Regions from separate parts of the Homo sapiens genome. Here region 1 is linked to region 2. The links come from fine-mapping of genetic effects on plasma protein levels. Region 2 holds a variant in brackets. A gene starts in the other region. All regions are shown on their reverse strands. Region 1 holds the start of CD300A (CD300a molecule). Region 2 overlaps POC1B-DUSP6 (POC1B-DUSP6 readthrough).

What was found. PIP is the posterior inclusion probability: the model's chance that the variant is causal. The UK Biobank Pharma Proteomics Project read protein levels with antibody pairs (Olink). The fine-mapping took linkage between variants from a reference panel, not from the people measured, so its PIPs are less certain.
Region 1: CD300A starts here. The variant in region 2 is fine-mapped to the plasma level of the CD300A protein (UK Biobank, PIP above 0.99).

What each region holds. Positions count from the first base shown.
Region 1 is chr17:74,465,341-74,468,251 of GRCh38, reverse strand. CD300A (CD300a molecule) reads right to left here and starts at 1,618. Exons shown (of 7, transcript NM_007261.4): 1 at 1,509-1,618. The coding sequence starts at 1,548. LOC124904056 (a long non-coding RNA gene) reads left to right here and starts at 478. Exons shown (of 2, transcript XR_007065899.1): 1 at 478-702. RefSeq lists an enhancer at 477-606 and silencers at 967-1,026, 1,067-1,126.
Region 2 is chr12:89,429,763-89,432,673 of GRCh38, reverse strand. All of the region lies in intron 9 of POC1B-DUSP6 (POC1B-DUSP6 readthrough), which reads left to right. The region is part of intron 10 of POC1B (POC1 centriolar protein B); the gene reads left to right. All of the region lies in intron 1 of LOC105369889 (a long non-coding RNA gene), which reads right to left. Among named protein-coding and RNA genes, the nearest start is that of DUSP6, 79 kb to the right of the region's middle. The variant A/GTA (reference allele first, on the strand shown) is at 1,240.

The DNA of each region.
Region 1 (2,911 bases), not on the chromosome of region 2:
GACCAGCCTGACCAACATGGAGAAAGCCCATCTCTACTAAAAATACAAAATTAACCAGGCATGGTGGTACATGCCTGTAATCTCAGCTACTCGGGAGGCTGAGGCAGGAGAATCACTTGAACCTGGGAGGCGTAGGTTGCAGTGAGCCAAGATCGCGCCACTGCACTCCAGCCTGGGCAACAAGAGCAAAACTCCATCTCAAAAAATAAATAAATAAATAAATAAATAAATAAATAAATAAAAGTAAAAATGCTTTGTGAATAGTCATTGGTGGATCCCTTCTTCCTAATAATGAGAAGCTCTGGTCCTTTTTCCCTGAGTCAGCAACAAGGCAGGGACAACCACTACCACTATGTCCGCTGGGCCTCACTCCGGCTGTACCAGCCAATGAGTCAATGGGAGAAAGAGAAACAGATATTAGACAGGAACTGAAACCTTCCCATGCACACCGACCCTATGAAACAGAAGAACACCCAAGAGAATCGCAGGAGCACCTGTTATGGGAGGATGACCCGTTTCCAAGTCAAGACACCAAAAGTAATAACCTTCCCACAGACAAGTAGTTAGCAAATATAATTGCAGAAAACCTCCGATCTGTAAGGAAAGCAACCACAAAGACGTACAATACCCTAGGACTAGGCCTGAGGAGTCTGCACAGGAGCTGTCTGAGGAGAGCGGTGGACGTGACTGAAGGCACAGCAGGTGACTCTGCGGGAGGAATCCCTGCGCTTGGACAGGGAAGACTCAACTCCACGCTTCTCCCTAAAGAAGATCTCAGCGCTTCTCTGCCCGATCTTTTCCCTCCTCGCCCTCCCCACCACCTTTTCTGTCCCCTCTGTCCCATATCCCCTTCTTGGAGAGGACTGACCCCTGGTTCTCAGGCCCATGCAGGGGCTAACCCCAGCCAAGGCTGCCTCGGGACTTCCCCCTGCTCAGGCCCCAGCCGCTGGGCTGCCCTGGTTAAATCTCCGCATTCCAGAGACTATCGATCTGCTCCCCACCCCGACCCTATCTCCCTCACCGCCCCACCCCCTCCTCCGTACCCTGCACCTAGTGAGGCCGGCATCTCCCCCACCCTCCCCACACCCCCCTCCTCCATACCCTGCACCCAGTGAGCCCGGCATCTCCCCCACCCTCACCACATGCCCCTCGCAGTCAGTGGCTGCCACTCTCCACCCACCCTGACACATCCTGCCTCTCGTCCCCCTTCCTGTAAGAATTCAACTGAAAACCTAAAAGGTCCCTTTTCTGCACCCACCCCTTATCACTTGCCCCGCTGTGGTTCAGCCAAGGTACGTGGGTGCAGAGCCGGGAGAGGCCCTGGCTCCTTCCTCTCCCAGGGGTGTGGACCTTCATCTGTCCATCTTATGTGGTAGACAGAGCGCACCGCATTCTGCGTTCTGCACGGAGTCCAGACTCGGGGCGTCTCGTGTGATACCTGCCCTGCGGCCCTGCCCCTCGCACCCTCCCTCCCTGCCGCAGACTTTCCCGGGAAGGGAAACTCTCACCTGGGACCCAGAGAAGCAACAGAGCCCAAGGCAGCCACATGGTCCCTTCCCCAGCACAGGCGGCACTTGCAGCAGCTCCAGGCCCTACCTGGACCCGAGGGGAAAGTCACGCCTCCAAGGCCCCGACTTCTGCTTTTCTTGGTGCCGCGCTGCTTCCTTGTTCAGCTTCTTTTGGTTCTATTCCTGGAGCCGGTCAGAAAATGCAGGAAGCTGGTGAGCCCCGACTAAGACTCCCTAGAAACGGCACGTCCTCCTTAACGCTGGTTGAGGCTGCAGGTTCTTCGGCTATTTCTAGTGATGAGACCTCTCCCTGTAGTGACTCCGTAGCTTGCAGGACTGATCCCCGACTCTCACTTCCCCGGGTCTCCTCCTAGTGGAAGGCCCAATAACTCCTCCCTCCTTTCCTTGTGGTCAAGGTGGGCAACCCTGGGGGTGGGACCCGCTGAGCTGGCTCCTCTCACCCTCGGTGGTGCCCACGAGGAGGCTGCCAGGGGGAACTCCCCTTTCCTGAGTCCCTTCCCTGAGTCCCTTGGAGGTCCAGGCCTGGGCTTCGGGGCTGAGGGAAGGGGAGTTGTCATCGTGACTCCAGAGTCCCTGAATGGTTCCTAGTCTTGGAAATGTGTCCTCAACTTGACACAGAGGTCCTCCGGCCATGCCTTCCTTTCTATATAGCCCCATTGGAGCCAACTCGGGGCTGGGCACAGAGCAGGGACTCAGCGAGCCTGCAAGGACCCCTTTCCTGATCCACACAGAGTGCAGACTCTAAACACACACACGCTCACACTCACATACACACTCACACCCACACACACTCACCCACACACATTCACAAACACACACTCACATACACACACTCACACTCACCCACACACATTCACAAACACACACTCACATACACACTCACACAAACACACTCACCCACACACATTCACAAACACACTCACATACACACTCACACAAACACTCACCCACACACATTCACAAACACACACAAACACACTCAGCCACACACATTCACAAACACACAAACACACCCACACATTCACAAACACACTCGCATACACACAAACACACATTCACACACCCACACACATTCACAAACACACACTCACATACACACTCACATGCACACATATTCACACACACCCACACATTCACACTCACACATACACACAAACACATTCACAAACAAACACGTTCATGCACATACACTCACATATACACACTCACACACACATTCACAAACACTTTCACAAACACATACACACACGTACACACAAACACATACACACATTCACAAACACGTTCATGCACATACACACACACACACAAACATTCACACACCCACACACAAACACACACAAACACACTCACACTCTCACATACACACACACTCACCCAAA
Region 2 (2,911 bases):
TACATCATAACACAGCACATTGCTTAGCTTTATTTTTCTTCCTAACCCTTGTCACCTAGCATTACATCACATATCTACATATTTACTTTTCTCCTTCACCCACTAGAGTATAACCATGATAGCAGGGCCTCTTTATTCACTCCTTGAGGTAGGCAGAACAACCATTCCTCTCAAAAATATTTATGTCTTCATCCCCAGAATCTATGAAAATGTTTCCTTACATGGCAAAGAGGGCTTTGCCAATGTGATTAAGTTAAGGCTTTTTTTTTTTTTTTTTTTTTTTTTTTTTTAAGAAACAGAGTCTCGTTGCCCAGGCTGGAAGTACAGTGGCTCGATCTGGGCTCACTGCAACCTCCACCTCCCAGGTTCAAGTGATTGTCCTGCCTCAGCCTCCTGAGTAGCTGGGACTACGGGTGCATGCCGCAACACCTGGCTAATTTCTTTTGTATTTTAGTAGAGACAGGGTTTCACCGTGTTGCCCAGGCTGGTCTCAAACTCTTGAGCTCAGGCAATCCGCCCACCTCGACCTCCCAAAGTGCTAGGATTACAGGCATGAGCCACCATGCCCGGCCAAGTTAAGGCTCTTGAGATGGGGAGGTTATCCTGGATTATCTGACCGGGCCCCATATAATCACAAGGGTCCTTATACGGAAAGAGGGATTCATGAGAATTAGAGAAGATATAACAATTAAAGCAGTTATTGGAGTGATGCAGCCATGGGCTAAGGAATGTGGACAGCCTCTAGAAGCTGGAAAGGCAAGGAATGGATTCTCTCCTAGAGCCTTCAGAAGGAATGCAGCTTACTGACACCTTGTTTTTAGCCCCGTTAATCCTGTTTTGGACTTGCAATCTCCAAAACTATAAGATAATAAATCTATGTTGTTTTAAACCACTAAGTTTGTGGTAATTTGTTACAGCAGCAGTAGGAAATGAACACAGTCCTGTATCTCTGGCACCTGGAATTTTGCCTGGCACATAGGTGCTAAATAAAATAATTTTGCTTGAACAATTGGCATATATTCATTATCTTAGATCTTATGTAGAGATTATTGAAGTTTCCAATCCCTACTCTAAATTTTATCATTGAAAATAAATGATATAGTCTTTCTTTGAAAAATATTTGCTTTTATTTTTGTCCAAGGCAAAAGGCTTTTTTTGTTGTTATTCTAGTCTATTTCAGGCAGACGTTTTATACATACGTGTGTGTGTGCATGTGCGTGTGTGTGTGTGTGTGTGTGT[A/GTA]GTGATTTAAAAATCTCAGAACATCAGGAATAAAAAGGGCTTTAAAAGGCATTCAATTGAATTTCCTGATTTGATGTTTGTATATCTTTCACAATATCTCTGACAAATGACCTTCCCAAGTCTATTTTAGAACCTTCAATAATGGGAAACACTTTGGCTTAGATATTTTCTGCCTTTTATCTGTTTTCTTCTCTACTTACAGAATTAAACCAAGAGTAGAAATGTTAGTTGTAAACCAAAACTAACTTATTTTAACCAACTGATTGAATGTATATCTAAAGTTCAAGTCACTGATTATCTTTACATGTGAAATGCCTACTTTTGCACTCACATTTGTTAGAAAAATCCATCTGTTATTCAGCCAGAAGCTATCAAGTATGCCTTTAGGGGATAAAAATCTACCAGTGATTTGAAGTTAGATAATATATGCTTACATTGCTTCCTCACTGTACCTCTGAGAAGGCATTTAAGATTGTAATTTTTAATAGAAAATGGCATTAGTTTAACTTTGGGGGGTAATATTTCTCTTCAAATACTATCAAATTGCTAATATTTAATTTTTTGTGATTGGCTCAGCTGATGCAGGACAGTCCATTAAATTCAGTTCAACCAATGTGGAGCTTTGTCTGTGTCTCATGTGCTATGCCAAGCACCTGAGATGATAAAGTTACTGACCCCACATGAGGGGTTCATAATCTAATGGGGAATACGGATATGTAAACACAAATATAATAAGGAGTGAGAAATCCTCTACTGATGGCACGAAGTCTTGTGGGAGTGAAATGGCACTAGTGATTAATTCTGACTCGCCAGCCCAGAGGGTGGGTGGTGGAAAGGGTGGTGGTAGAAGGAGAGAAGAGGAAAGGAGGAAGGGGAGTAGATATAATGTATGAACTTTCGCACGTAGTTGAGCACCACAGTATCTTGAATATTCCTTTGTTAATTATGTAAATAATAATAGTTTAGATGTGTGGACCATGGTTATGTTGTTGAATGGTTAATTTTCTAATAAAAATGTGTTTGGCAATGCGAAAATTTTCAGTTTTCATTGATGCATTAAAATAATTCATCCTCAAAAATAAGTGACAAATGAAGATGTATGCATTAGAATTAACCATGGTATTTAAAGAACCTTTTAAGAGTCATTTGTCCCCAGGATGTGATATGTTTTGTATTCAGTTCTCAGGACTTTCGTAGTTCTTTGCATCAGTCAGATCTGTATCTTTTACTCCATTTCATTTGTTCAGGTGAAAAGTGAGTCCTTTTGACCTATATAGATAAGGATTTCTCAGCCCTTAGATTCATTCTTTGCCCTTGGTGAGGCTGCATTTCCCATCTTCAAGATGGCAACCATGGGGTTATCCAAAGAAGAACTTAAGAATAGTGATTGCCCTGCCATCCTTTTTGATAAAGTACTTCCCCAGAGTATTGTAAGCTCCATGAAGGAAGATACCATGTCTGACTTGTTCTTTGCTATAGCTCTAATGCCTACCATAGGAGGTCCTTATTTGTAGGATCAATCAATGATTGTATTACTATTGCTTCACTGTATCACACAATGTTAGCAATAGAAGTAAGAGGTGGGAAATGAGAACATGATATAATTTCTTCTTTTTATGAACTACCAAAGCATTTGTTTTTTCTGCAGTCTTGCAATCATGTGTTTGCTTAT